7 linked regions of the Homo sapiens genome follow. The protein of the gene in region 2 interacts with the protein of the main gene of each other region in a biochemical or structural test. Each region holds a gene or a part of one and is shown on either strand. Other genes may lie near its edges.

Region 1 (4,053 bases), on a different chromosome or scaffold from region 2:
CGATCACAGCCCGACCCCGTGGCGCCCGCACCAGGCTGCGCCTCGCCAGCCACTGAGAGGAGTGCATCCTGCCCATGGGTAACGGGATGGTCACCATGCGCTGGGGCTGGAGCTGGCCTCACAGGGAGGGGCTGGACAGAACTAGTGTGAACACAGGCCTGGCCAGAGCAGGACAGGAGGCAGTCAATGCAGAAGGACGTGGTCGGTGGGGTAAGCTGCTGACTCGTGATGGGGGTCAGCGGGGGAGGCTGGCACCTGCCAAGGACACCAGAAGCCAGGGTCTCACCAGGCAGCCTGGACAAGTAGGGGCTCCGGGAGCCCTGCAGGAGGCGGCCCACTGCTCCTCACAGCCTTCCTTCTGCGCTTCTGGATTTCATTCTGGATCCCCCCCTTGCCCCTCCCAATTTTTTTCCCATCCAACTCACCCACGCCTCCAAATCATTCCCATGTGGGTTTAGGCGTGGGCTCAAAGGACAGGGTCCCTGAGGCTCTGGGGGCGGCCACTGGCCCCCGATGGTTGGTGCAGAGGCTGCGGTCTGACTTTGGGAATGGTTCTCGAAGCGAACGCACACCCGTGCCCTCCCTATCCACAGAGAAATGACTCTGAGCCTTGCACCCAGACTGCAGCCCCGCGGCCCTGCCCAGCACCAGCCATGGCGAAAGAGTGGGGCGTGCCCAGCGGGGCCCCTTCTGGACTTTGATGGCTCCTGTGTCGTCAGTGGTGCCAGCGTGCTGGAGCTTACATTTCACTCTAGGGAGATCCAGTTTCATGCCTCAGCCCACCCCACCCTTGTGGTGTTGGGGTCCTGCCCACATGATCCTCACGTGTCCCTCCCTCTCACCATGGCCTCCCAACCCCCACTCTTCCCCGTGGCCATGTGGGAATGCCTGGGTCTCCACCCGGACAAGATTATTTGCAGCTACCTGTGGCTGTCCCCTGGGTGGGCTCCCAGGCGTGGGCTGGCTGGCTTGCCTCTCCAGCACCCACTCCTTCCATGCTTTGAGACCCACAGTGCTGCTCAGGGCTCACTGCTCAGGGACACTGACTCCCACCCAGCCCTGGGGCGAGCCTGGTCTGAGTCAGGCGTGGCCAACCTGGCCATTTCTGCCAGTCAGCAGCAAGACAAGGCCTCTGGTGGCTCCTGGGACTGCTTCCCGCCCTTGTCGGGAGACAGGACCTCTTCTTCCCCAGGACCTTGTGGCGTCTGAAGGTGAATCTTGCCACCATGAAACTGACCTACCACTGCATGAAGCTGCGGATTCATGGGGCCAACGTGCACACGCACTGGGTCTTCCCCTCTGTGGACCCGACACCCTCTCCACGCACACACGTCTCTCAGGCCTTCCCGTCTTCCCCGTAAAGAGCTCACACGTGTTTTCCTGGGTTTTCTCCTAGATATCTGGAGAGAGTTCTTTTTGCTAATGTGAACGAGATCTTTGTGTGCATTTTAATTAGTTTATTCCCATTATACAAGAAAGGTTTGATTTCCTAGACAGAAGGCCTGCTCGTCCAGCCCCCCAAAATCACAGCAGCCAGCTGAGCGGGTGACCATCTATTATGGGTGAATTGTGTCCCCACAAAAGACAGGTTCAAGTCCTGACTCCCAGTACCTGTGACTGCAATTTTTCTAGAAATAGGGTCTTTGCAGATATAATGAGTTAAGATGAGGCCACCCTGGAGTAGGGGGTCCTTAATCGCAGTGACAAGGGTCCTTATACGAGGTGGGGAATTTGAACACAGTCACATGGAGGTGGCCATGGGAAGGCAGAGACAGAGACTGGAGGATGAGGCACCGTCCCCTGGAACCCACGCCATCCCCCAAATCCCCGCCCCGTCCCCTGGAACCCGCGCCATCCCCAAACCCCCACACCGTCCCCTGGAACCCACACCATCCCCCAAATCCCCGCCCCGTCCCCTGGAACCCGCGCCATCCCCAAACCCCCACACCGTCCCCTGGAACCCACGCCATCCCCCAAATCCCCGCCCCGTCCCCTGGAACCCACACCATCCCCCAAGCCCCCGCCCCGTCCCCTGGAACCCGCGCCATCCCCAAACCCCCACACCGTCCCCTGGAACCCGCGCCATCCCCAAACCCCCACACCGTCCCCTGGAACCCACGCCATCCCCAAACCCCCACACCGTCCCCTGGAACCCACACCATCCCCCAAGCCCCCGCCCCGTCCCCTGGAACCCGCGCCATCCCCAAACCCCCACACCGTCCCCTGGAACCCACGCCATCCCCAAACCCCCACACCATCCCCTGGAACCCGCGCCATCCCCAAACCCCCACACCGTCCCCTGGAACCCACACCATCCCCCAAGCCCCCGCACCATCCCCTGGAACCCACGCCATCCCCCAAGCCCCTGCACCATCCCCTGGAACCCACGCCATCCCCAAACCCCCACACCGTCCCCTGGAACCCACACCATCCCCCAAGCCCCCGCACCGTCCCCTGGAACCCACGCCATCCCCAAACCCCCGCACCGTCCCCTGGAACCCACGCCATCCCCAAACCCCCACACCATCCCCTGGAACCCGCGCCATCCCCAAACCCCCACACCGTCCCCTGGAACCCGCGCCATCCCCAAACCCCCACACCGTCCCCTGGAACCCACACCATCCCCCAAGCCCCTGCACCATCCCCTGGAACCCACGCCATCCCCCAAACCCCCGCATTGTCCCCCAGACACCTGTGCCATCCCCCAAACCCCTGCGCCATCTGCTGGACACCCACGCCATCCCCCAGACACCTGTACCATCCCCCAAACCCCTGTACTGTCTGCTGGACACCCGCACCATCCCCTGGACACCCAGGCCGGCAGCCTCCTGCTGAGTGCTGGGGTGAGGGAGCCTGACGGAGGTCCCTGAACTGAAGATGAGTTGGCGCTTAGGGGCCGGAGGGAGGGACACAGGCGGCCGGAGGGATGGACACAGGCAGCTGGAGGGAGGGACACAGGCAGCCGGAAGGAGGGTGTGCCGGCCCAGGACCCTGGCCTCCCCCAGCCCAGCCCTGCCCCCGTGGACACCACCCAGCAGCGGACGGGCCGATGTGCACTTGGGAACCCTCACCCTGCTCCCGTTTCTCACTCCCGCCTCCTCCAGAAAAGAAATTCCCTCCAGAGCTGCTTCAGGGACTCGGGCTGGAGAGGCCCACAGGTGGGAGAGGGGCATGGGCGCCTCAGATCTGAGAAGCTCCCTGAACCTGAGGCCCGCCCACCCCCGCCTCCCATCCCTACCTTTCCCACCGGCGCTACCACCTCGAGGGCCTCTGCCCAGTACCTAGGAGACCCCCGTGCCACCCACCGCAGCTACACCCCCTCCCCGCAAAGGCCCCGCTGCAAGGCTCCAGCAGCTTTAAGGGCTCTGGCTGTGCGACGGGCATCAGACACCCAGCCAGGTCCCTGCTCCCCTCCTGGCCCCAGGAGAGCTGCGGGGAGCCTGGCCCCTTGGAGCCCCACAGGCACCTGCTGTGGGCCTGGTCCATTCCTCGGCCTCCCTACCCGCAGTGCTCCCTGCAGGCCAAGTGACTTCCCGGCCTACAGGCGGAGGAGCAGACCCGAGCCGGACCTTTGAGGCTGGGTAGACCTTGGAGGTGGGCGGCCCATGCCCCACTTTCCACACTGGGTTGAAGGTTGAGCCCAGTGGAAGGGGCATAGACACAGGCGTTCAGGCCCCTACTCCTGCTACAACCTCCCCACCCTCTGGAGACAAAGGTGACCTGGAGCTCCCCACCCCCACGTCCACGGTGCCCTGACACCCCACTGTGGCCATTTCCGCCTTGCATTAGGAAAGGACAGAGAGGCTGTGGTCTGTGGGGGTCCCGAGAGGCAGCCACACATGAAGGGCCTGGCCATGCCTCGATGGAGAGGGACGAAGAACAGAGAAACAGCCCCCCAACCCTGACACTGGGGCTCCTCTGCCCAGGAGGAAACAGTGTGGCCCTGGCCAGAGTGGGGCTGACCTGGGGACGGGCAAAAGGCAGAGATAGTTATCCCAGCCCAGGTCTGGGAACAGCAAAACATCAGAGCAGGGCCAGACCTCCACTCTCCCC
Region 2 (4,053 bases):
TTATGTTAATTAGGTTGACCGTAGTAATCATTTTGCTATGAATATGTATAACAAAACATGTTTTACACCTTAAATATATAATTTTTATTTTTTAAAAATAGTGGGGGCTGGATGCGGTGGCTCACACCCGTAATCCCAACACATTGGGAGGCTGAGGTGGGTGGATCATCTGAGGTCAGGAGTTCGAGACCAGCTTGGCCAACATGACGAAACCCCATCTCTACTAAAAACACAAAAATTAGCCGGGCATGGTGGCGCCTGCCTGTAATCCCAGTTACTAGGGTCTGAGGCAGGAGGATCGCTTGAACCTGGGAGGCACAGGTTCCAGTGAGCCAATATCATGCCACTGCACTCCAACCTGGGCCACAGAGTGAGACTCTGTCTCAAAAAAAAAAAAAAAAAAAGAAAAAGAAAAAAAAAAGAAAAAGAAAAAAGTGAGTTAGAATTATCTCTACAATCATCAAAAAGCGTAGACAACAGAAAGCAATAAAAAAAGCCAATAGATCATGTCAAAAGGCTTTGCATCCATCATTTCGTTCCTTGGCTTAGCCTTAAACAGGAAGGAAAAATGAGACCAAAAGTATCAATTAATGAGGTTAAAACAACTGGTGATTGAAGTAGAATATGTATCAGATCTATCTTAGAGCTATGACTGATGTATAATGTAAAATGGTACTTCAGTTCAGATCTAAATTCTTAACTTCACTTTGAGTAATTTTTGTTTCAATAATCAAATTAAATTATTTAAATATTTAGCCCACAATAATCAAAGGTATATAACTTGCATCAATTGTTTTTGTACATTTTCTGGTAATTTTCTGAGTATAAGAGTGTGAAAAATATTCATGAAAAATCATATTGTAGTTTTAACTGGAAAGTACTATTTTAGTGACTATGAAGAGTGGTAAACAAAAGGGGAAATAAAATTTAAACTGTTATTTCATTATTTTAATATAGGTTACTTGAATTTCCACTAGAGGAGCAGAAATGCCACCAATGCCAAGTGCCCCACCTGTGCATCCACCTCCAGATGGAGGATGGGGTTGGATTGTGGTTGGAGCAGCTTTTATCTCCATTGGATTTTCCTATGCATTCCCCAAAGCTGTCACCGTATTCTTCAAAGAAATTCAGCAAATATTCCACACTACCTACAGTGAAATAGCATGGATTTCATCCATTATGCTGGCTGTTATGTACGCAGGAGGTAAGCTTCTTGCAATAAATAGAATCCTGAATTAAGAAAATAATTCCTCCATGTCACAATGTTTTACATGGAGTGTCTTGGTATATTAAAACCCTGTTTTTATGTTATAGTCACTTAAAACCAATCAAAAGTATAATTAGAACTGAAATTTCAATGATTTTAGTGATTCAGCATCTTAAGCTATTTGCTTCGAATTGAGTCTTAATGGAGGATTTGTTTGAATAAGAATTTGTAAGCACAAAGCAAGATTTACTAAATTATGGAATTTCTAAGTGAGGCTACTTCATTTAGTTTGAAATAAAGTCCACAACATATTGCTGATGTCATTTTTCACAATCGCTACCTCTGGTAGAAATGCTTTCTTCTGAATGAGAAGAAAATTTAAGTTGCTGACAGTTTATAAGCCCAGAAAGTACATCACTTTAAGCTGCAAAAATGAAGGGTTAACATGTACATTCTAGACCCATTCAAATTTGTGTGACTGAAATAATTATTTATCTCTATAAGGCTCATTAAATAGGACATCTTTTTAACTTAAATTGTTGCTTGGAAATTATCTTATTACATTCTATGTTCAAATGAGGGTATTAGTCATGAAGGATAATGAAGAAATCAAAGTACCATCCCACTTCTAAATGTTGCAAATTTGGAATTATTGGTGCCTTATTATGTCATCTATTTTCTGTAAATCAATCTCAATAGCAGACCAGACTCTCTTGTAGAATTTTTTGAAAGTCATTACTTAAAATATGTCTTTTAGCGTTTTTATTTTTCAAGTGGATATTTGACTTTAAGGGATAGATATAGACTCAGACTATAGTCATTTAAAGAAATTATATCAATTATCTTCTGTGATTTCTTATTTTTCAAGTAAGGATAATATGGCTCTTAGTCATGAAAATATAACATTAGTATAATATCCAGTATTTAGTAATATTTACTTTCACCCAAGGCCTAAGTACTTAATATGTGTGATATGACTTAATCCTCTTAATGATCCGTGAAATAAGTATTATCTTCTCTTTATTCCATAGCTAAGGAAATATATACAATAGCTCTCCCAAGTCAAACAACTTGTTAGTAGTAAACAGAGACTGTAACTCCTAGCATTTAACACCTGTGGTCTCTGACTTTCTCATAACTTTCTCTTTACATCTAGAGAGTGACAAAGCCAGATCTGGCCCAGGCCTTCTATAAACCTGATTCAATTCTTTCTACTTCAGCTCAGTGGCTTGTGTACCACCTCCACCAATGTCATTTGTTCAGTGACATAATAATTATTCTTTAGGACATTATCTTTTTGTTGTACTACGAAGGTAAACAGTTGATCCTGAAATAATTCCCTGTGTGTGTGTGTGTGTGTGTGTTTATGTGTGTTGGTGTTGGAATGTGTTTTATACTTTTTATATATAGTGACTTTATATTAATACAGCATATGTTTCCCTTATTCATTTGGTTAGGTTAAACATGCATTTTTCTTCCAGTATCAAAAGGTATCCTTTAAATACTATTTGGGCGTGTCAATGGAAAATTCTACTTCTAACACACATTCTATGAATCTCCTTTGGACAGTTGCTTTATAGATTGTAAGAATGTTATTTCTTGTGACCATAGAAACAGTAGGTATTGTAGAGTAGATATTCCTGTATCCTGTGGGACAGGTGTTGTTTAATAATGTTTTGCTAGAGCAGCACACAGTCATCTTGATTTCAGCTCCAAAACGTGCTAATATTAAGATATGTAGAGGGTTTTCTTGCCTCTTAAATACAATTGAAACAGTCTCTTCTAGTGAATTAATATAAGTCCATTGAATTTGAACTTCAGGTCTTACATAGTCATAATTCCTTATTGAGCAGATAGTTGACTAACTCATCAGTAGGACAAAATTTTATATACTGTTTTAATTAAGCCAAATCTTAATTTACATTCTCTGTTAGTTTTCAGACCTCAGAGTCTTGATGACTTAAAACAATACAGGTTATTTCTTTCTGAAGCAATGTTTCAAAAAGTGGCTATTCCATCACCCAAGGCTTTGTATGTTGTTCCCTAAATCTGCTCCATCTGTTGGACAAATAGTAAAGGCAGACAGCATGGAAGATCATATGGACTATTTTAGGGGGTATGCCTGGGAGGAATAAACATTATTTCTGTACATATTCTATTGATCAGAACTCTTATACTGCCCTACCCAGAGTTAGGGGCCATGGATGCTGGGAAATACAGCCTTCCCAAAGGAAGAAACAGAACTACATAACATCTAGCCAGTCCTAGTCAGAGCCTGGTATCTCAATATTCTCCATTGAACAAAAGAAGCATGTGTTTATAGACTTGCCTATGACAGCCCTCCACCCTCTGGCTGGATCTAAAAGGAACATTAGAATGAACAATGGCATAATTAACTTTCTCAAACCACTAAATCTCAATATGAAATTATAAAAAGTAAATATACTATATTTACTACAAATAAATGTTTTTATTTTATTCATACTTATTTTTCTATTTTAATATATATGGTATAATTTTTTAAAAGCACAAAAGAACTCTTCTGAAATTCATGAAGAAAATGGTAGTTTGTTAAAATAGTTATAAATTTGGAAAAAGCTGCCTTAAAATTTTTAGGGTGATAGATGAATAAAATATGTCTAAGTTAAATATTAACAGGGATTTTATATATGCTTGTTTTGTGAAAGCAGTGCTAGATACATACAAATTCTTGGTATTTAGTAATTGATGAAGGCAATATCTAGGTGAGATCCAAGTAAGTACCTGGAATATTGCCTAAAGTCCTCCATTATCGGGGCTAAAACATGCAAATGTTTCATCTCTGGCCATAGAGAAAAGTCAGGAAT
Region 3 (4,053 bases), on a different chromosome or scaffold from region 2:
TTTGTATTTTCAGTAGAGACAGGGTTTCGCCATATTGGCCAGGCTGGTCTCAAATGCCTGACCTCAGGTGATCCACCCGCTTCAGCCTCCCAAAGTGCTGAGATTACAGGCATGAGCTACCGTGCCTGGCCATGAAGGAAGATTTGTTTTAAAAAATTGTTTTCTTTAATATTAATTGAACACCTCTGTTCAGAGCACTGGGCTGGTGCCAGAGGGTTTCAGACATGAATCAGATCCAGCACCTCATAGAGCCTTAACTCTGGCACACACACACAGCCACAAGGAGACACAGACAAGGCAGGGTAGGATGAGTGGAAGCTAGGAGCAGATGCTGATTTGGAACACTTGGCTTCTGCAGTGAAGCCCCTTCTTAGTCCTCTTCAGTAACCCAGCTCTCAGTGGATACAGGTCTGGATTAGTAAGATTTGGAGAGATGATTGGGGATTGGGGAGAGCTCTCTAACCTATTTTACCACCTCCTCTTCTGCCATTCTTCCTGTCCACATCCCAGCATCCCTTTCCCTTGCCAAGTATCTGTGGCCTCTGTAGTCCTTTGTAAACAGCTGTCTTCTTACCCTACAGATCATTGGGCAGGTGTATGCAGATCCTGACTGCCTTCCCCGAACACTGGACTTTGGCCTCAACGTGAAGCTTTTCTGGGAGAAGTTTGTTCCCACAGATTGTCCCCCGGCCTTCTTCCCGCTGGCCGCCATCTGCTGCAGACTGGAGCCTGAGAGCAGGTTGGTATCCTGCCTTTTTCTCCCAGCTCACAGGGTCCTGGGACGTTTGCCTCTGTCTAAGGCCACCCCTGAGCCCTCTGCAAGCACAGGGGTGAGAGAAGCCTTGAGGTCAAGAATGTGGCTGTCAACCCCTGAGCCATCTGACAACACATATGTACAGGTTGGAGAAGAGAGAGGTAAAGACATAGCAGCAAGTAATCTGGATAGGACACAGAAACACAGCCATTAAAAGAAAGTTTAAAAGAAGGAAATTCACCCAAACCATTTGAATACAGTAAGTGTATTCATCTTTCGATATTCCCCTGTCCATATCTACACATATACTTTTTTTTATAGTAAATAGTTCTGTATTTTGCCCTGCATTTCCCTTGTGTTTACTATCCAGTCTTCCTGTTTATCATTTTTGTCGACAACATGAAATTCTATTGAGAGACTGTCTGAACATATTGTAATGTAGATGTTCAGGTTTTTCCAGTTTCTCTTTACAATAGGTATTTAACTACAGTGAGCAGTTTTATGCATTTAGCTAATTTCTCCTTTGAGGAAGTATTTTCAAAATTACCTTTATTCTTCTCAGGTAATAATTTCATTATTACCAAAGTTACCCTAGGTCTTTTCAAGTGTGTGGTTAAAAAACGAGAATCTGGCTGGGCGCGATGGCTCACACCTGTAATCCCAGCACTTTGGGAGGCTGAGGCTGGTGGATCACCTGAGGTCTGGAGTTCGAGACCAGCCTGGCCAACATGGTGAAACCCCATCTCTACTAAAAATACAAAACTTAGCCAGGCATGGTGGCAGGTGCCTGTAACCCCAGCTACTTGGGAGGCTGAGGCAGGAGAATTGCTTGAACCCAGGGGCGGAGGTTGCAGTGAGCCGATATCACGCCATTGCACTCCAGCCTCGGCAACAAGAGTGAAACTCTGTCTCAAAAATGGGGTTCTTTTCCTGCCATCAAAAATCATGTTTCTTTTAAAAACAAGTTCAAACATTACCAAAGTTTATAGCACAGGAAATACGTCTTCTGTAATCTCCCTTAACCAATATATCCCTCAACATTCTCCTCACCCCCAACTCCACCCTCCCAGGATAACCAGTTGGGACATAATCTTTATTTAAAAATGGTTTCCGGATAGAGAAAGCGCTTCGGCGGCGGCAGCCCCGGCGGCGGCCGCAGGGGACAAAGGGCGGGCGGATCGGCGGGGAGGGGGCGGGGCGCGACCAGGCCAGGCCCGGGGGCTCCGCATGCTGCAGCTGCCCCCGGGCGCCCCCGCCGCCGCCCTCGCCGCGGAGCCGGCGAGCTAACCTGAGCCAGCCGGCGGGCGTCACGGAGGCGGCGGCACAAGGAGGGGCCCCACGCGCGCACGTGGCCCCGGAGGCCGCCGTGGCGGACAGCGGCACCGCGGGGGGCGCGGCGTTGGCGGCCCCGGCCCCGGCCCCCAGGCCAGGCAGTGGCGGCCAAGGACCACGCATCTACTTTCAGAGCCCCCCCCGGGGCCGCAGGAGAGGGCCCGGGCTGCGCGGATGATGAGGGCCCAGTGAGGCGCCAAGGGAAGGTCACCATCAAGTATGACCCCAAGGAGCTACGGAAGCACCTCAACCTAGAGGAGTGGATCCTGGAGCAGCTCACGCGCCTCTACGACTGCCAGGAAGAGGAGATCTCAGAACTAGAGATTGACGTGGATGAGCTCCTGGACATGGAGAGTGACGATGCCTGGGCTTCCAGGGTCAAGGAGCTGCTGGTTGACTGTTACAAACCCACAGAGGCCTTCATCTCTGGCCTGCTGGACAAGATCCGGGCCATGCAGAAGCTGAGCACACCCCAGAAGAAGTGAGGGTCCCCGACCCAGGCGAACGGTGGCTCCCATAGGACAATCGCTACCCCCCGACCTCGTAGCAACAGCAATACCGGGGGACCCTGCGGCCAGGCCTGGTTCCATGAGCAGGGCTCCTCGTGCCCCTGGCCCAGGGGTCTCTTCCCCTGCCCCCTCAGTTTTCCACTTTTGGATTTTTTTATTGTTATTAAACTGATGGGACTTTGTGTTTTTATATTGACTCTGCGGCACGGGCCCTTTAATAAAGCGAGGTAGGGTACGCCTTTGGTGCAGCTCAAAAAAAAAAAAAAAAATGATTTCCAGCGGTCCACATTAGAGTTGAAATTTTCTGGTGGGAGAATCTATACCTTGTTCCTTTATAGGCCAAGGACCGCAGTCCTTCAGTAACACCAGTGTAAAAGCTTGAGGAGAAATTGTGAAGCTACACAGTATTTGTTTTCTAATACCTCTTGTCATTCTAAATATCTTTAATTTATTAAAAAATATATATATACAGTATTGAATGCCTACTGTGTGCTAGGTACAGTTCTAAACACTTGGGTTACAGCAGCGAACAAAATAAAGGTGCTTACCCTCATAGAACATAGATTCTAGCATGGTATCTACTGTATCATACAGTAGATACAATAAGTAAACTATATTGAATATTAGAATGTGGCAGATGCTATGGAAAAAGAGTCAAGACAAGTAAAGACGATTGTTCAGGGTACCAGTTGCAATTTTAAATATGGTCGTCAGAGCAGGCCTCACTGAGGTGACATGACATTTAAGCATAAACATGGAGGAGGAGGAGTAAGCCTGAGCTGTCTTAGGCTTCCGGGGCAGCCAAGCCATTTCCGTGGCACTAGGAGCCTGGTGTTTCCGATTCCACCTTTGATAACTGCATTTTCTCTAAGATATGGGAGGGAAGTTTTTCTCCTATTGTTTTTAAGTATTAACTCCAGCTAGTCCAGCCTTGTTATAGTGTTACCTAATCTTTATAGCAAATATATGAGGTACCGGTAACATTATGCCCATTTCTCACAGAGGCACTACTAGGTGAAGGAGTTTGCCTGACGTTATACAACCAGGAAGTAGCTGAGCCTAGATCCCTTCCACCCACCCCATGGCCCTGCTCATGTTCCACCTGCCTCTAATTTACCTCTTTTCCTTCTAGACCAGCATTCTCGAAATTGGAGGACTCCTTTGAGGCCCTCTCCCTGTACCTGGGGGAGCTGGGCATCCCGCTGCCTGCAGAGCTGGAGGAGTTGGACCACACTGTGAGCATGCAGTACGGCCTGACCCGGGACTCACCTCCCTAGCCCTGGCCCAGCCCCCTGCAGGGGGGTGTTCTACAGCCAGCATTGCCCCTCTGTGCCCCATTCCTGCTGTGAGCAGGGCCGTCCGGGCTTCCTGTGGATTGGCGGAATGTTTAGAAGCAGAACAAGCCATTCCTATTACCTCCCCAGGAGGCAAGTGGGCGCAGCACCAGGGAAATGTATC
Region 4 (4,763 bases), on a different chromosome or scaffold from region 2:
AACTTGTAACTCTATGGACCCCATTCCAGAAAAATATATAAATGTTCACAAAAAAGTTGAGATCATGTCAAAAGCTTCATTGACATCCTTGAGCTTATTCATGAAGCCAAGGCTAAGAACCCCTGATCTAATATTCTCCCTCCACCATTTTTCCTAAGGACAAAACAGATCAGCAAGGATTATTGGTTTGTTCCACCTTGTGCAGCTGCTTAGAGGGGAGTCCAAGTCCAAAGTGCAAATTCTGATACTCTTGTTCTTTCTACCATATAGTGAGTTCGTTTCCATAAATAAAAACGACTTCTCCCCTTGAAGAAGCAGACTAAGAAGACACTGCTTTTTGAGGGAAGGGAGGAGGCATGTGGCTGGGACTGGCAGTGTGGGTAGACAAAGTGCCTCTCACCCCCAGCGAGATCCACTCATTCCAACGTAGATATTTGAAATGGACCTGGGTTCCCACTCTACAGAGGAGCACTGCGGGATCACTGAGCGCAGTCAGAGTTCCAGCTTTGAAGGACCTTGTCCTGCAGTCAGGGAGGTAAGCAGTATGTGTCCACAAACGGCTGTCGTGGAAGAGAAGACATTCTTGGGCTTTAAGGGGGACTGCAGATCCTTTCCAAGTCATCAAAGGAAGCAAGGTAGTCCGCTGATTTGTCTCCCTCTGAGACATTTAGGGGGAGAGCGCCTCACTTGCCAGAAAGACCAAGGACTGCACCGCAGACACCCACCTTTCTTTTCCTCATCCGGCGACACATCCTTCCTCCTGCCAACATCCTAACTCCTTTACACTCTGGGGACCAGCTCTTCTCAAATGCTGGCGCGGGGAACAGCCTATTTACCGCAGTTGAGGCGATTTTACTGGGAAATTCTCTTAGGAGCTCCTTGGAGAGGGAAAGCCTCACGGATTCGGCGGAGGTCTTAATCTGGAGATGTCCAAATTTAGGGGAAACCCTCCCCACCATTTGTCTCCAGGCTGTATTTTGGAGTTCTCAGATTAGGACCCTCTGGACTGGGGGCAAGATTTGTATGAGGGGGTCTCCAGCAGCTTGTGGGCTGGCCGCGTGCCAGGCCTGACTCCGTGTCCCCCACCCCCGGCTGCGCCTGGGCCTCGGGGGACCGGGAACCAGCCGGCGCCGCGTCCCCGCCTAGCGGGCGGGCCGGGGACCCCTCCCCTCCGCCCGTCCCCTCCTCCCCTGCTGCCGCCTCCCGGAGGGACGGCCTGGGGAGGGGAGAGAGGAGGGACGGGCCGGCGGCGGCGGGGCTGTGGCCACGGGGGAGCGGGTGGCGGCCGCGGGGCCCCGGTGAGCCGGGCCGGGGTGCACGGGGGCCGAGGCGGCCTCCGAGCCGGGCCGGAGCTGTCGGGAGCCTGGGAAACACGGCCCAGGCGACTTTCTCCCGGGAGTTGTAGTCTTGCTCTGGGGGCGGCGCGCGGCCCGGCTTTCGGGGCGAGTTTTCTCGCGGGGCGGGCGGCGCGCGCGGAGGCTGAGGGGGAGGGGGAGCATGCCCGGCTGGAGCCCGGCCTCGGGGCGCGCCCCGGCCGCCGTCCCCACCTCCGCCTCCTCCTTCTCCTCCTCCGTCTCCTCCTCCTCCTCTTCCAGTCCCGCCGCCGCGGCAGCCAACATGGCTGCGCTCCGGAGCCCGGGAGGCGGCCGCTGCTGAGCGCCGCCCGCCGCCCCGGGCCCCCAGCCCGCCCAGGCCCCGGCCCATGGCTCCCGCCGCCTCACGGCTCCCGGCGCCCTAGGGCTGCTGCCGAGGTGCTCGCCTGCCCGCCCGCCGGCCTCGGGGGGCCCGGGAGGCGTCCGGCGGGGCGGGGCGGCGCGGCCCGCCACCATGGAGCCCCAGCGCCGGGAGCTGCTCGCCCAGTGTCAGCAGAGCCTGGCCCAGGCCATGACGGAGGTGGAAGCCGTGCTCGGGCTGCTCGAGGCCGCGGGAGCGCTCAGTCCCGGCGAGCGGCGGCAGCTGGACGAGGAGGCGGGAGGCGCCAAGGCGGAGCTGCTGCTCAAGCTGCTCTTGGCCAAGGAGCGGGACCACTTCCAGGACCTGCGGGCGGCGCTGGAGAAGACGCAGCCTCACCTGCTGCCCATTCTCTACCTGAACGGCGTCGTCGGGCCGCCGCAGCCCGCCGAAGGCGCGGGTGAGTGGCAGACCCTTGGCCCCCGCCTCTGGGACGCGCCCTCCGCTTCTCCCTCCTGCTGGCCGAGGGTACCTCGCCGGGGCCGCCGCTCCACCTGGCGATGGCCTCGGTGGACTCGCTCCTCTGGCCCAGTTGGGGAGGCGGCGGTGCGCGGATCCCGAAGTCCCGCCGCCTCCCCCAGTCCCGCCGTTCGCTGTGAACAATGCCCCCCGCTGAAGGCCTTCACTCTCAGGTGCCTCGACGACAGGGTCCCCGGGGGCCACCAGGTCCAGTAGCGGGTAGGGGGTACCTCGGAGGATGTCCATCAGTCCCTTTTCTGAGGCTCCTCACCGTCCGCTAGCTTTGGCACCCTGTGCTAGCCTTTAACCAAGGGTACCGTCCAGAAGAATGGGACTTGGGCCAGGACCCCTACTCTTAAGTTTTGGTCGCTGCCATCCTGTGCCGGGGCCACAACTGCTTTTTCATTTTCTGGCTGTCCCAGCTCCTTTTTCTCTGCTCAGAGCCCAGTCTCTCCCAGACTGGTGGCTGATTGTGCACAACGCCTGCCTGGGTTTCTTTGGAAACTGGGCCCGGAAAAGTTGGGGAAGTTGCATTGCACCATGGGAAAATCCTAGTAGTGGCTGCTGGGGCTAAGTTCTCTCCCTGAGAGCACAGAGCTGCTTAACGAGGAAGGCTGGTGACTGGTTCCCTTGAGGGTGCCTTTTGGAACCCCTGTGTCTTTGGTCTTGGGGATGACTGATTTGTAAGTGTGTGTCTGGGTGCAGGAACGGATACTGGCGGGAGTTTCTGACAAGTGGTAGGCTTGTCCTGGCCTGGCCGTGGAGTGTGGAAGCCAGCCTTTTTAGACAAGGCAGCTGGAGGAAGAAGACATGGCACTGAGGGAGGAGGAGAACTAGCATTTATTGGGCATCTACTGTTGTGGCAGGCGCTCTGCTTTATCACGTTCAGTTGTCGTTGCCACTATGTGAGCTTTCTGTTATTCTTTGCCAGAGAGAAAACTCTGGCTTGGAGTGGTTAAAATGCTCAGAAAGTATTGGGCACCAGGAATTTTGAATTATAACCTATTGTTTGATTTAACTTGTTCAGAGCCAGGAAACAAAGTGCCATCTTTCTAGGTCTTGTCCCTGTTTTAACAGTGAATCGATAGGTACAGTAAAAATAAATAAGGATATATGTATAAAAGAAAAACAAGTGAACCGAGAGGGCTGAGAAACTGCCCTTAGCAACCTGAAGGTCAAAGGCTGATGGGACCCATTTATTTGGCTGTTAAAAGCCCCACTTATTAAGGGAATGATTTTATAAGGCATTCCTGGTAACAGCTCTCTTACGTTGGCCATCTTAACCTCAATTTTTGTAGCTGCAGGAAACTGACAGAGAGACTAAATTGCTGGCCACACAGCAGGTCATTTCATTGGTGGCCCTCCCGTCTCCACTTTGAGCTTCTGACTTGCATCTCTGTCCCTCAAACCTGCATTCTTTCCCCCCAGTTGTGGTCATGTCAGAGTTACTGGGCAAACCTAGTCCTTTCCTGGGATAGTGCTTTGGGAGATGCTAGGAAGGGACTGTCAGATGTGGCCATGAGGATAAGGACAGAGGGGATCTCAACAAAGTAATTTTTTTCTTTTTAATTGTATCTATGTATCTATCTAATCTATCTCTGAATGAAGAAGTTAAGATCTGTTTCTGAAAGTCTTTCGTAAAGCACAGAACTTAGTACAGACTGGAAGTCTGCGTTGGGAAGCATGTGAATCAACGCTCGCCTTAATCTCTGAAAATTGATTGATGGATCAATTGCCATTAATTAGGTCTCACCCTTTCCGTGTCTGGTGGAGAATGTGGGGCCTCATGGGGCTGAAGTTCTAGGAGCTAGTCTTGACCTCTAAGGAAGGCAGAGATTAGGGTTTGGATTTTATCCCCTAGGGCATTGATTTCAGACCCCAGTTTTACCACAATGCAGAGTTATGTGACTTTGGAGAGGGTCATGAAATCCTTAGAAAAATACTTTTCAAGGAGAAGTTAAGTTCATTTTACTTAATGCATTAGAAAAACGCTGGTTGGGTGTGGTGGCTCATGCCTGTAATCCCAGCACTTTGGGAGGCCGAGGCGGGCAGATCTCTTAAGGCCAGGAGTTCGAGACCAGCCTGGCCAACATGGTGAAACCCCGTCTCTAATAAAAATACAAAAATTAACTGGGCGTGGTTGTGGGCGCCTGTAGTCCCAGCTACTTGGGAGGCTGAGGCAGGAGAATCACTTGAATCTGGGAAGTGGAGGTTACAGTGAGTTGACATGGTGCCCTTGGATTCCAGCCTAGGTGACAGAGCAAGACTCCTTCTCAAAAAAAAAGAAAGAAAAAAGTTAGGACAGCATTTGGTATGGCAAGATGCCACCTGAAGCCCCTGGGGAAGAGGGTGACATGGTGTGTCAGCAAACAGTGGCGTGTTGGGGGCTTTTGTTTTTTTGAGACAGGGTCTCACTGTGTCACCCAGGCTGGAGTGCAGTGGCACAATCTCGGCTCACTGCAGCCTCCGCCTCCTGGTCTCAAGCCATCCTCCTGCCTCAGCCCCGCAAGTAGCTGGGACCACAGGCACATGCCACCACACCAGCTAATTTTTGTATATTGTGTAGAGATGGC
Region 5 (4,053 bases), on a different chromosome or scaffold from region 2:
CACCACCACACCTGTCTAATTTTGTATTTTTAGTAGAGACGGGGTTTCACCATGTTGGTCAGGCTGGTCCCGAACTCCCAACTTCAGGTGATCCGCCAGCCTTGGCCTCCCAAAGTGCTGGGATTACAGGCGTGAGCCACCTCACCCGGCCACATATATGGTATTTAATGTTTTTCAACTTTATATTATGAAGATTTTCAAAGAAAAAGGAAAGTTGAAAGATCAGTGTAATAAACATTTATCTTCTAAAATATTACTATTCTGCCATCTTTACTTGGTCTCTGTATGTATATAAACACTCATGTCTTTCTGGGCAACCATGCGAAGGAAAGTTACAGACATGACAGTTCATTTCTACTTACTTCACATGCATTTCCTATGAATGAGGACATTCATCTATATAATACTATTATCCGATCTAAGAAAAGTAATAATTTTACAGTATTATCTAAAATCCAGTCCATATCTCAAGATGTCTTTTTCATTTTTAGAGATGGGATCTTGTTGTGTTTCCCAGGCTGATCTTGATCTCCTGGGTTCAAGCGATCCTTCCACCTCAGCCTCCCAAGGTGCTGGGATTACAGGTGTGAGCCACCATACGCAGCTCTCAAAATGTCTTTGATATATGTTTTCTTCCCTATCCAGGATCCAAAGTTCACTCATTGCATTTAATCATTATCTCTTTAGTTCCTTTTAATCTAGAAGGGTTCCTCTTTCCCCTTGCCCCTCTACCCCACCCCCCACTTTAAAAATGGCATTGGGCCAGGTTCAGTGGTTCACGCCAGCACTTTGGGAGATGGAGGCAGGCAGATCACCTGAGGTCAGGAGTTCGAGACCAGCCTGGCCAACATGGTGAAACCCCGTCTCTACTAAAAATACAAAAATTAGCCAGGCATGGTGGTGTGCGCCTGTAATCCCAGCTATCGGGAGGGTGAGGCACGAGAATCGCTTGAACCTGGGAGGCGGAGGTTGCAGTGAGCTGAGTACAGTCCAGCCTGGGCAACAGAGCGAGACTTTGTCTTAATAATAAATTAAATAAATAAATAAATAAGGCATTGACTTTTCTTCCTTAAAATTTTAAAAATTTATGCATAATGCATAGTTATAGGGTATGTGTGATTAATTTAATACATTAATATGATTTGTAAAATTCAGATGAGATTGGGCACGTTCAGGATGGTATGGCTGTAGACATGATTTGTAAAATTCAAATCAGTGTATTTGGAATATCCATCACCTTAAATAATTGTCTTTTCTTTATGGTAGAAACGTTCAGATTATTTTCTTCCAGCTATTTTGGAATGTACAGTAGATTCCTGTAAGCTGTAGTCACCCTACCGATCTAACATTAGGTCTTATTTCTTCTATCAGACCATATATTTGTACCCATCAATCAACTTCTCTTTATCCGCCTTTGCCCCCTTGGCAGCTATGTATAGAATGTCACACTTTCTGGATTTTTGTTTTTTGAGTTTTATAACTTAGTGATTTGGGCCTCTGAGACTTTTCAAACTTGAGTAGAAGCAGATTTTGGAGATACTATTTTATTATTACCTTAATTCAAGGCCCTGTACTCAGAGCTTCACGGTCATTGTCCTATTCTAACCCTGTGAGATTTTTATTGTCCGTTTCCGGATGAGGAACCTGAACCTTAGTGAGTCGGCAGGGATACGGTTTTCCTGAAACCAGAACCAGGGCTCTTAACCACTGCCTTCTCCACATTCAGTTGTGATTGTCCTGCGTCCACACTGAGTTTGTTTTGACAACAGGTGGTCAAGAGGCCCCGGAAGGTCCAGGTGGCCGCACTTCAGGCCAGCCCTCCCCTGGATCAGGATGACCGGGCTTTTGAGGTGATGGACGAGTTTGATGGCAGAAGTTTCCGGAGTGGCTACAGCGAGAGGAGCCGGCTGAACAGCCATGGGGGGCGCAGCCGCAGCTGGGAGGACAGCCCGGAAAGGGGGCGTCCCCATGAGCGGGCCCGGAGCCGGGAGCGGGACCTCAGCCGGGACCGGAGCCGTGGCCGGAGCCTGGAGCGGGGCCTGGACCAAGACCATGCGCGCACCCGAGACCGCAGCCGTGGCCGGAGCCTGGAGCGGGGCCTGGACCACGACTTTGGGCCATCCCGGGACCGGGACCGTGACCGCAGCCGCGGCCGGAGCATTGACCAGGACTACGAGCGAGCCTATCACCGGGCCTACGACCCAGACTACGAGCGGGCCTACAGCCCGGAGTACAGGCGCGGGGCCCGCCACGATGCCCGCTCTCGGGGACCCCGAAGCCGCAGCCGCGAGCACCCGCACTCACGGAGCCCCAGCCCCGAGCCTAGGGGGCGGCCGGGGCCCATCGGGGTCCTCCTGATGAAAAGCAGAGCGAACGAAGGTAGGCATGCTTGATGTGGGAAGAAAAGCACTGTTGTGATATGAATAACCTTTGTTTTCTTAATTTTTTTTTTTCCCCCGAAAGTGTTGCTCTGTCATCCAGGCTGGAGGGAAGTGGCGTGATCTCGGCTCACTGCAACCTCCACCTCCCGGGTTCAAGTGATTCTCCTGCCTCAGCCTCCTGAGTAGCTGGGTCTACAGGCACCCGCCACCACGCCCAGCTAATTTTATGTTTTTAGTGGAGACAGGTTTCAACATGTTGGCCAGGCTGGACTTGAACTCCTGACTTGAGGTGATCCGTCCACCTGAATCTCTCACAGTGCTGGGATTACAGGCATGAGCCACCACGCCTGGCCAGGAATAGCTACTTTTTTTTTTTTTTTTTTTGAGACGGAGTCTTGAGTCTTGTTCTGTTGCCCAGGCTGGAGTGCAGTGGCGTAATCTGGGCTCACTGCAACCTCCGCCTCCCAGGTTCAAGCAGTTTTCCTGCCTCAGCCTCCCTAGTAGCTGGGATCACAGGCGTGCACCACCATGCCTGGCTGATTTTTTTATTTTTAGTAGAGACGGGGTTTCACCGTGTTGGCCAGGCTGGTCTTGAACTTCTGACCTCAGGTGATCTGCCCACTGCAGCCTCCCAAAGTGCTGGGATTATAGGCATGAGCCACTGCACCTGGCCAGCTAACTTTTTTTTTTTTTTGAGACAGAGTCTCACTGTGTCACCCTGGCTGGAGAGTGCAGTGGCATGATCTCGGCTCACTGCAACCTCTGCCTCCTGGGTTCAAGTGATTCTCCTGCCTCAGTCTCCGAAGTAGGTGGGATTATAGGTGCCTGCCACCACGCCCGGCTAATTTTTGTATTTTCAGTAGAGACAGGTTGGCCAGGCTGGTCTCAAACTCCTGACCTCAGGTGATCTGCCCACCTTGGCCTCCCAAAGTGCTGGGATTACAGGTGTGAGCCACCGCATCTGGCCGAGCTATCTCTTAATTGCACTTAACCAGCATTGTACCCAGCATTGACCTAAATGCCTAACACCAATTCGTTCGTTTAATCCTCAGAACTACCTCATGAGGGAGGACTCTTGTTTCTCCATTTTATAGACAAGGAAACTGAGGCACAAAAGGTTCATTGATATACACAAAGTTGTGTCATCATTGGAAGAGCCAGGCTTCAGAATTTTGGCTTTAAACTAGGAGACCAGTGGTTCTCAAAGCAGTGCATCACCTGGGCACCCCTTAGAAATGCAGACTCTCAGGCCCAACCCAGTCCCACCAGCTCAGAAACCATGGGGTGGAGCCGGGTGCAGTGGCTCACACCTGTAATCCCAGCACTATGGGAGGCCGAGGTGGGCGGATGACTTGAGGTCAGGAGTTGGAGACCAGCCTGGCCAACATGATGAAACCCCATCTCTACTAAAAATGCAAAAATTAGGTGGGCGTGGTGGTGGGTGCCTGTAATCCCCACTTCTCTGGAGGCTGAGGCAGGAGAATAGCTTGAACCCCAAGGGGCAGAGGTTGCAGTAGCAGAGATCATGTCACTGCACTCCAGCCTGGGTGACAGAGCGAGACTCTGTCTTGAAAAAAAAAAAAAAAAAAAAAAGAAACCATGGGGTGGGCCCTCAGAGTCTCTATGTTAATAAGCTCTCCTAGTGGCCTTGCTGCATCTCAAGTGGAAAACC
Region 6 (4,588 bases), on a different chromosome or scaffold from region 2:
CTTGAGGTGGTGCCAATGGGACGGAAAGAGGAGGCAGATTGGAGAAATAGTGAGGTTATAGAGGCAATAAGACTTGTTCATTTATTGGATGTGAGGAAAGGACAAGGAAGGAGTCCAGGATGATTTCCAGGTTTCTGGTTGAGGCAACTGGATGGGTGGTAAGGAACTGGGACAGGGAATAGAGGAGCAGGCTGGTGACAGGCCGTAGAGCACATTGGTTATGTGCATCCTCCCGGCCTCCCAGAAGGAATCCATCACTTTTTCCACTTTTATAGGTGTTTCCGCACTGTCTTTCTGTCCGGATCTGGCAGACCTGGGTTTGAGTCCTGGCTCTGGACTTATAAGCTGTGTGATGTTGAGCATATTATGTAATTTGAGCCTATTTCCTCAACTGTAAAATGGAAATACAACTTACTTCTTGTTTGTGTATGTCTGAATTGAATGCACAGTGTGTGGTATGCAGTGGGCACTCCATAGTGTTGGCTATTTTTATTACTCAGAAAGGGGTCAGGGAAGAGGCCCAGGACAAATGGGTGAAGGCTTTAAGCAAGGCTTCTAGGTCAAAAGAGGAAAAACACAACATGTGGCAGACCAGCTGAAGCCAGAGGGAGGCCAGAGCTGAGCTACCACCACATGTTGCTGAGCAGATGAGTCACTGCAGGCAGCAGGTCAGGCTACCCAGGCCACAGCAGACTGGGCTGGGCTCTACACGATGACTTCATTGTATGCCTTTTTTGTCCTCTCCTCCTCCCAGAAGGAATCCATCACTTTTTCCACTTTTATAGGCGTTTCCACACTGTCTTACTGTCCGGAAAGAGCAAACACGGTGGAAAGGGACAGAAGAGCCAGAATTCCGTCTAGTTTGATCACTGATTTGCTGGGTGACCTGGTGCATTTCACTTCGCCTCAGTCTCTTTATCTGTAATATGAGAATGCGCAGATTTGCCTCCTAAGTGTGATGTGAGAATTAGGTGAGAGTTGGCAGGCACTAAATAAAAAAGCATGCATTAGCCTTCTATTCATTAGTTGTGTTATTCTGTCTCCTTCCTGCTCCCGGCCCCTCTCTCCCTAGTTCTTTGAGGACACCGATCGACTCGAACTCATTTTTGGGTCCCCAGCACTGAGCTTGGCCCAGCAGTTTCATGAATGGATGAATGAAAGATTCAATGGGAGTCCGCAGCCGCTGACGGCGCGCCGAGAGCCCCGCTCGCTTCTGGTCCTCCGACTGCGCGCCAGGGCCACGGGCGGGTCCTTTGCGACCGTTCGCTGGCGCGTGCGCGGGAGGCGGCGCGCGGCCGGAGGTGGCGGGCGGGCTCCCGGTGCGCGCGCGTGAGGGGCGGGGCCGGCCGAAGGCTGGCTGTAGGCAGGCGGCTGAGCCGGCGGCGGGTGGCCTGCCCAACGTGTGCTGGGTGGGAGAAGGCGAGGCGTCAGCGATGCTGTCTCTTCCGTGAGGAGCGCAGAGGAGGTCGCGGCGCCGGAGGCCCCAGAAGGCTCGAAGGCGCCGCGGGCTGGGGTCGGTGGCTTAGGGAGCCCGTCCGGCCATGGTGGCCGCGGGTGGTGGTTGGCGCGGCTGCGCTGCGGCCCGGGGCAGTGCGGAGCCGGGACAGTCGCGGCGCTGACGCCCGCGGGCCCCAGCTGCAGATATGAAGCGGAGCCGCTGCCGCGACCGACCGCAGCCGCCGCCGCCCGACCGCCGGGAGGATGGAGTTCAGCGGGCAGCGGAGCTGTCTCAGTCTTTGCCGCCGCGCCGGCGAGCGCCGCCCGGGAGGCAGCGGCTGGAGGAGCGGACGGGCCCCGCGGGGCCCGAGGGCAAGGAGCAGGTAGGGCGGGTTGGGATCCGGGAGGGTGAACCTGAATGGAAGCCGTGGGGGAGGGGATCTTCGGCGGGAGGACCCGGGCTGGAGCTTTGGAGGGGTGGGGTCTGAGTAGTTCGCGGGGAGGAGTGGGAGGTCTGGGGAGGCCGAGAAATGGGGAGTGGAGAAATGGAAGTGGTGGCCTGGGGTTGTATTGGAAATGGGGGTGTAGAAGAATGAAAAATTGGTGCAAGAGATAGTCAGGGGTTCTGGATGGGGCGAAAGGACGCTGGAATGTGGGCTGAGTGTGTGAGCTGCAACGAGTAGGCTTACTAAAGAGGCGTTGAGGAGTTATCCATAGGAGTAAATAGAGTAAGATGTAAGTCAATTTGATGTAGTGTTATCCTGTTTTCTAGAGGTTGTCCTTAAAATTGTAAAAACGGATGACACTCCCAAGCATTCTCTGATTTGGCCATCATTATACTTTTGTACCAGTGTGTTCACAATCATTGTTAAGGCTCTCTTTACCAACCATCTATTTCACAAGAAAGCACTTGTGAAACACCTGCATGTGAGCAGTGTTAAGCCCAATTTTGTGAACAGAATTCGTAGATATATGGTTTGCCTGCTAGTTTTCCACTGAAAACACATTACTGGGAAAACACAGCAGCATACAAATATTCATGGAGTTTCTGAATGAACAGGATATGTTTATGTAATTTATTAGTCAAGAGTAGGTGTATTTATGAGTAGGGGATAAAGGTCAGTTTTATCAGGCAGGAGAAGCTGCCACTAGTAGCGGTAATAAGTTTAGTGAAAGGAGAATAAGTAATCCTTGGTCTTGTTGGATTTACAGAAAAATGTTCTGTAGTAATGAACTCTAGTGACAGCTTTCCTTTTGTTCAGCTCTATTCGGGATCCTACTGACTTCATCCATGAATGTTTTAAGACTTCTTATAGGTCTCTTACCTCTTTTCTCTCAGATAAATTAGCATTTTCCTTAGACATTTTTTTTTTTTTTTGAGACGAAGTCTCGCTCTGTCGCCCAGGGGAGAGTGCAGTGGCATTATTTCGGCTCACTGCAACCTCCACCTCCTGGGTTCAGCGATTCTCCTGCCTCAGCCTCCCGGCTAGCTGGGATTACAGGTGCCTACCACCATGTCCAGCTAATTTTTTTGTATTTTTAGCAGAGACAGGGTTTCACCATGTTGGCCAGGCTGGTCTGGAACTCTGACCTCAGGTAATCGGGATTACAGGCATGAGCCAGTGTGCCCGGCCCTTTAGACAGTTTAAAAATTATATACCATGCTAGGTAGCCCTTGGACTTTTCCCCCCTTTTGTTCTTCCACCTCTTATTCCCCACTGAGCCCTGAGGAGACTGCACCATTGACCATCTCTGCCCCGCTTCTAGCTGCTGAGCATTGTCCTCTTGCTGCAATTTACTCCCCCATGTGCCTAATACTTATCTTTTACATTCTCTGCAGTATCATCTAGTCAAAACTTGTACAATGAACTTCAAGTCCAGGTCCTTTCCTGTCTCAGTTTACCTGTCCAGTTGACCTTACTGCGTATTTCATGGTAGAGTTCAAGATTACTTGATTTTTCCCTCCTCTTTATTTTATGATTTTTGTGTTTTCTCATCCTTAGCTTCAGTCTCAGAGAAAAGTACTCATCCTCCTCTCCGAGGCTAATTTCTCTACTTATGTCCTTGATTTCATCCTCTTTTGTTTGCCTTAGACCCTTGTTACTCTCTTTGTTTTATATCACAAATAAAAACAAAACAACATAATTTCCCTGAATTGTGTAACCTACCCAAACTACTTTGTTATCTCTTCTTTGCTTCCCCAACAACCTTCTTGAAAAATGAGTTTGTATTCAGTGTCTTAGCTTCCTCACCTTGTATACATTTCTAATATGGTTTGGCTTCTTCACTTATGCTTTCCCAAAACTGATGTCTTTAAGGTCACCGAAAGCTTTTTTTGTGTGGGATTACTTTTTTATTGAGGTTTGACAAATCAAAGGTTCATTCAGTCCATGAAATATTACAGAATGAGTACCTGTATGATCACAACTCACATCAGGATGGAGAACATTCCCAGTACCCTAGAATGCTCCCTGTGCTTTCTCCTAGCACTACTCTTTTACAGATGTAACCTCCCTCACCACCTCTGTCACTATAGATTTGTTTTGAACTAATACTTCATATAAATGGAATCATAGTGTGTACTGTTTTGTGACCAGATTCTTTCATTCGGATCATGTCTTGAGACTCATCCATGTTGTTGCTTGTAGAAACAGTTCTTTTTCATTGCTGTGTAATTTTCCATTGTATGAATGTATTGTGATGGTTACTAAAACTTATTTTTGTTTTTGAGACAGGATCTCACTCTGTCACCCACGCTGGAGTGTAGTGGTGCCGTCATAGCTCACGGCAGCCTTGAACTCCCAGGCTCAAGTGATCCTCCTGCCTCAGCCTCCCAAGTAGCTGGGACCATAGGCACATACCACCATGCCCAGCTAATTTTTTAATTTCTTTTTCTTTTTCTTTTTGAGACAGAGTCTTGCTCTCTCGCCCAGGCTGGAGTGCAGCGGCACATTCTCAGCTCACTGCAACCTCTGCCTCCCGGATTCAAGCGATTCTCTTGCCTCAGCCTCCCGAGTAGCTGGGATTACAGGCATGCACCACCATGCCTGGCTAATTCTCTATTTTTAGTGGAGATGGGGTTTCACCATGTTGGCCAGGCTAGTCACGAGCTCCTAACCTCAGATGATCTGCCCGCCTTGGCCTCCCAAAG
Region 7 (4,053 bases), on a different chromosome or scaffold from region 2:
GATGTCATCACTGCAAAGCGAGGGCCATTTTTCTCTGCAGAGCTCCCAAGGCTCTTCAGTGGATGCAGGCTGTGGCACAGGCAGCAGTGGCAGTGCCTGTGCCACACCCGTGGAGTCGCCGCTCTGCCCCTCCCTGGGGAAGCACTTGATTCCTGACGCTTCTGGGAAAGGCGTGAATTACATTCCTTCAGAGGAGAGAGCCCCTGGGCTTCCCAACCACGGAGCCACCTTTAAGGAACTGCACCCACAGACAGAAGGGATGTGTCCACGGATGACAGTGCCTGCTCTGCACACAGCCATTAACACCGAACCCCTGTTTGGCACATTGAGAGATGGATGCCATCGGCTCCCCAAGATTAAGGAAACCACAGGTACAGCAATGATGGATTTAGCACTTTGTATGACATGCCAAGAGCATGTAAACCATATTTACAACAAACTTAAAAACGTAATGTCTGGAAGAAAAGTAAAAGGTAGAATTTTAAAAGGCCACAGAACTGTAAAGTACCAATCATTGATCCCCTGGTATTTAATAAATACTAAAGATTATAAAGGTGAAAATGGCATTTGCTCTTTATAATCTTACTCTGTGCTTGCTTTCAGAATTGGATGGGGCAATATGTTTTTCCTAAATTCTAAATGCAGATGTTTAGCAATGCCCAGTGTGACTTTTAGTTATATGATAGTATTGCTTAGAGTCACATAACAGTTTGATTTTCTTCCCAAGACATCTGAGTTCTAATTCTGCCATTTCATTATTGAGGGACAAGGAAGGATAAGAGAGCAGGGTATCAGGGAGATTGGAGGGGTTTGGAGAGATCATTTGCCTTTCGGCAATCTTACTGATTCCTCCCTACTCTGTAAGACTGCTCTATATGGATGTTCTGAAGTGTCTTGCATACCCCAGTGTCAGGAAGATTTTGAGGCTATTCCTGATGAGCTGCTTTATTTTCCCCAAAATAATAAAGTGTAAACACACGTAGAAAAAAGAACACATCCACCTTCTGTATCCCACCTTCACCACTCCACCACTCAATGGCAGGCATTCCCCTCACCGATCCACTTGGCTGGCCATCACATGGCAAAAGCAGATACTCTTTCATACTTTTATGTTTCAAATTATGTCATCAATAGTGTCTTTTCCATACAGGTCAATGGAAGTTAGTGACATCTTATATTGGTCATTTTCTATTCCTGTTCTTTTAAGATTTTCTACTTTCTCAAAACCCACCACTGGCTTTACCTCCTTTGGAAAAGCTGTCTGTGAATATCACCTAACTCATCACCCAACTGCATCTTTACCTCTAAACTAAGTCACACTGTTTAATCCTTCATGATTTATAAAGAACTTTCACCTGAGTTACCTCTTGCTTCTCACAAAAATTCTGTGAGATGGGGATTATTTGCTTCACATGACAGCTTTTCTTAAAGAAAAAAAAAAATGTTGAACAACTGGCCCAGTGTTTCAACTTCAGACTTTTACCAGGCAAACCTCATGCTGACTTCTTAAAAAGATTCACTTATTTAATTTGCACTAATTAAATTAGGCCACTTCTTTAAAAGAAAGAAAGGAAAGAAAGGAAAGGAAAGGAAAGGAAAGGAAAGGAAAGGAAAGGAAAGGAAAGGAAAGGAAAGAAAGAAAGAAAGAAAGAAAGAAAGAAAGAGAAAGAAAGAAAGGAGGAAGAAAGAAAGAAAAGAAAAGAAAAGTAACAATGCCAGATTTAACCTAATTCCCTTGAAATGAAACTTAATATCTCCAATATATTTGAATAATCTATACACAGTTGTTTTCTGTGTCTAAGCTTTGATGGGTAGATATTGGGAGTAAGGCAATTCATGAAATCCCTGAAAATGTTTGGGATTTCTAGACAATTCCAAATGAATCAGCAGTTCCAGAAATAACAGATTCCAGTATTTTCTTGATATTCATTAAAATGGAAATTTGTTATGAGATATCAAGAGGCAGTCTTTGGAAAGCAGGGTGACCTTAGCATCGGCAGCCCTTCCAGACTACAACCTTGAGAAATGACAGACATCATGTAGAGATGTAGTAAAAATGACCTCCCAGGAGATGCTTAATGATTCTCTCTGTTTTTCTACTACCCCTAGTGTAGCTTTGACAGAGCCTGGGAAGGAGAGACGAGGAGGCATGCCTTCAGCTTGGTCTCAACATCCTGAAGCTGATCCCATCCTGCTACCATCAAACATTCACTCGGAATCAAAGGTGCCAATTCCAAATCAAGACCCTAATGATTTCTCCCAAGCAAATCAGGCATACGGAGAGGCTGTGAGCTGGCGGCCACCGGATCTGAGAGGGGGGAGCCTCAGGACACCTCCCAGCCAGAAGGCTCTGAGACATAGCAGCAGTATCCTCTCCGGATCTGTCGATTTGGAGACCTTCCGAGAGAGAACCAAGGGTGCAGTCAGCTTAAAGTGTCCAGGCATCACAGAAGCACAGGAGGCCAGTTCTGAAAGGCGAGCAGAACTCCCCCTGGGGAGGAAGCTCACCAAAAGTTTTTCCCAAAGCTCAATGCACTTGAGCTCTGAGGGGAGGTTTCACAAAAGGTCCCCAGTGGCTCATAAAGACTCAAAGCTGTATAGGACATTACCCTTGCGGAAGCTGGAGGGCAGCAATTGGAGATGCCGGGGACCCTTCAGCTATTGCTTCCTGAACCGAGGGCAGGATGAAGATGGTGAGGAAGAAGAGGAGAGGGGAGAGGCCACCGTCCAGGTCTCTTGCCTCTATAGACCACAGATGACTCAAGCCATGCCAGAACCAAGCAGCCCATGCCTGGCTGTGGCGATTCAGAAGCAACGAGGGGAGCTATCCAGAGGGTCAGTGCTGAAGGTCTGGGCAGAAGACCTGCGAGACCCAGATGACTTGGACTTCAGCAACCTGGCTTTTGATGCCCGGATTGCAAGAATAAATGCCCTAAAGGAGAGCACATATGCAATGCCTGATGGGTTCCTTGCAGCCCAAAATGATGCCAATGAGCTGCTCTGTCTCGTCAGGGCAACCAAGGAGAAGAGGGAGGAGTCACGCCCTGAAGCGTACGACCTTACACTTTCTCAGTACAAGCAACTGTTATCCATTGAGTCCAGACAGTTGGGAAGTGCCTGTAGGAAAATGGCGATGGCTGAGAAAAGCCCGGAGGAGATGCTCCTAGCTATGACTTCCAGCTTTCAAGTGCTCTGTTGCCTAACAGAAGCTTGCATGCGATTAGTTAAAGTCGTGAACTCAGAAACACAGCGGCAGGAAATTGTAGGGAAGATCGATGAAGTGGTCATAAATTACATTTGTCTACTGAAAGCTGCCGAAGCAGCCACTGGAAAGAACCCTGGGGACCCTAATGTTGGACTCTCGGCGCGACACTCAACCACCATGGCCGCTCTCGTAAGCACACTGACACGTTCTCTCAAGAGGCTTTTAAACAAATAAATATGGAAGTCACGTCATAATCTACCTTTGCAAAGCCATACATGAACTTTTATTTACTTTGTGTGTATGATGAACAGATGTCTCCTTTCTTCTCTCTGTATATTTTGTTATTTTATATAAAATAGGAGATAAAAGTCACATTGATGAAATGTTGAAATGTACTAATCAGATGTATTCTGTTTATATTATACATATATATACACGTAAAAGAAATATCCAAGAAAGTGATGACATTTGGCTATTTTTCATATAGTTAAAACTCCAGGTATATGATGTGAAATTTTAAATTCTACCATGTTAGAGCAAAACAATGAATCCTATCCCCTTTCTTTCCAAGTAGCTACTTGGAAACCATATCATTCATATTTAGAAGTAAAACACAAAACAAAAAAGAGAGAGAAAAGAAAAGAAATCACAATGTATATAAAACAGTACTTATGTTTTAAAATTATGATTTTTAAGCATTGGAAATAGCAAAAAGACATTTAAAATTCAAGAAGCTATTATGAATTACTAGAGAATATATCTGTAATAAATTAATTTTTTGCTCATAGTATTTGGTTACTGGATGCTTTCTTCCAAGAATCCCACATATTTAATTTGGGTTTTTGCTA

Evidence for each region.
Region 1: the proteins of SLC16A7 (region 2) and RHPN1 interact in a test that uses a peptide from one of them, tested with the Homo sapiens proteins (one large-scale study listed by IntAct).
Region 3: the proteins of SLC16A7 (region 2) and LIMK2 interact in a test that uses a peptide from one of them, tested with the Homo sapiens proteins (one large-scale study listed by IntAct).
Region 4: the proteins of SLC16A7 (region 2) and DLG5 interact in a test that uses a peptide from one of them, tested with the Homo sapiens proteins (one large-scale study listed by IntAct).
Region 5: the proteins of SLC16A7 (region 2) and TJP2 interact in a test that uses a peptide from one of them, tested with the Homo sapiens proteins (one large-scale study listed by IntAct).
Region 6: the proteins of SLC16A7 (region 2) and MAST2 interact in a test that uses a peptide from one of them, tested with the Homo sapiens proteins (one large-scale study listed by IntAct).
Region 7: the proteins of SLC16A7 (region 2) and FRMPD4 interact in a test that uses a peptide from one of them, tested with the Homo sapiens proteins (one large-scale study listed by IntAct).

What each region holds. Positions count from the first base shown.
Region 1 is NC_000008.11:143,371,482-143,375,534, reverse strand, and holds part of RHPN1 (rhophilin-1), read right to left. Parts: intron 1,804-4,053; exon of another isoform or gene 1,401-1,803; coding exon of another isoform or gene 1,242-1,400; exon of another isoform or gene 1,238-1,241; intron 1-1,237. UniProt on the Homo sapiens protein: Has no enzymatic activity. May serve as a target for Rho, and interact with some cytoskeletal component upon Rho binding or relay a Rho signal to other molecules.
Region 2 is NC_000012.12:59,703,815-59,707,867, forward strand, and holds part of SLC16A7 (monocarboxylate transporter 2), read left to right. Parts: intron 1-957; 5' UTR 958-987; coding exon 988-1,204; intron 1,205-4,053. UniProt on the Homo sapiens protein: Proton-coupled monocarboxylate symporter. Catalyzes the rapid transport across the plasma membrane of monocarboxylates such as L-lactate, pyruvate and ketone bodies, acetoacetate, beta-hydroxybutyrate and acetate.
Region 3 is NC_000022.11:31,274,570-31,278,622, forward strand, and holds part of LIMK2 (LIM domain kinase 2), read left to right. Parts: intron 1-581; coding exon 582-739; intron 740-1,867; exon of another isoform or gene 1,868-2,219; coding exon of another isoform or gene 2,220-2,571; exon of another isoform or gene 2,572-3,069; intron 3,070-3,727; coding exon 3,728-3,872; 3' UTR 3,873-4,053. UniProt on the Homo sapiens protein: Serine/threonine-protein kinase that plays an essential role in the regulation of actin filament dynamics. Acts downstream of several Rho family GTPase signal transduction pathways.
Region 4 is NC_000010.11:77,923,585-77,928,347, reverse strand, and holds the start of DLG5 (disks large homolog 5), read left to right. Parts: upstream 1-1,592; 5' UTR 1,593-1,827; coding exon 1,828-2,131; intron 2,132-4,763. UniProt on the Homo sapiens protein: Acts as a regulator of the Hippo signaling pathway.
Region 5 is NC_000009.12:69,219,118-69,223,170, forward strand, and holds part of TJP2 (tight junction protein 2), read left to right. Parts: intron 1-1,769; coding exon 1,770-2,379; intron 2,380-4,053. UniProt on the Homo sapiens protein: Plays a role in tight junctions and adherens junctions. Acts as a positive regulator of RANKL-induced osteoclast differentiation, potentially via mediating downstream transcriptional activity.
Region 6 is NC_000001.11:45,802,253-45,806,840, forward strand, and holds the start of MAST2 (microtubule-associated serine/threonine-protein kinase 2), read left to right. Parts: upstream 1-1,359; 5' UTR 1,360-1,643; coding exon 1,644-1,820; intron 1,821-4,588. UniProt on the Homo sapiens protein: Appears to link the dystrophin/utrophin network with microtubule filaments via the syntrophins. Phosphorylation of DMD or UTRN may modulate their affinities for associated proteins. Functions in a multi-protein complex in spermatid maturation.
Region 7 is NC_000023.11:12,718,420-12,722,472, forward strand, and holds part of FRMPD4 (FERM and PDZ domain-containing protein 4), read left to right. Parts: coding exon 1-371; intron 372-2,109; coding exon of another isoform or gene 2,110-2,114; coding exon 2,115-3,439; 3' UTR 3,440-4,053. UniProt on the Homo sapiens protein: Positive regulator of dendritic spine morphogenesis and density. Required for the maintenance of excitatory synaptic transmission. Binds phosphatidylinositol 4,5-bisphosphate.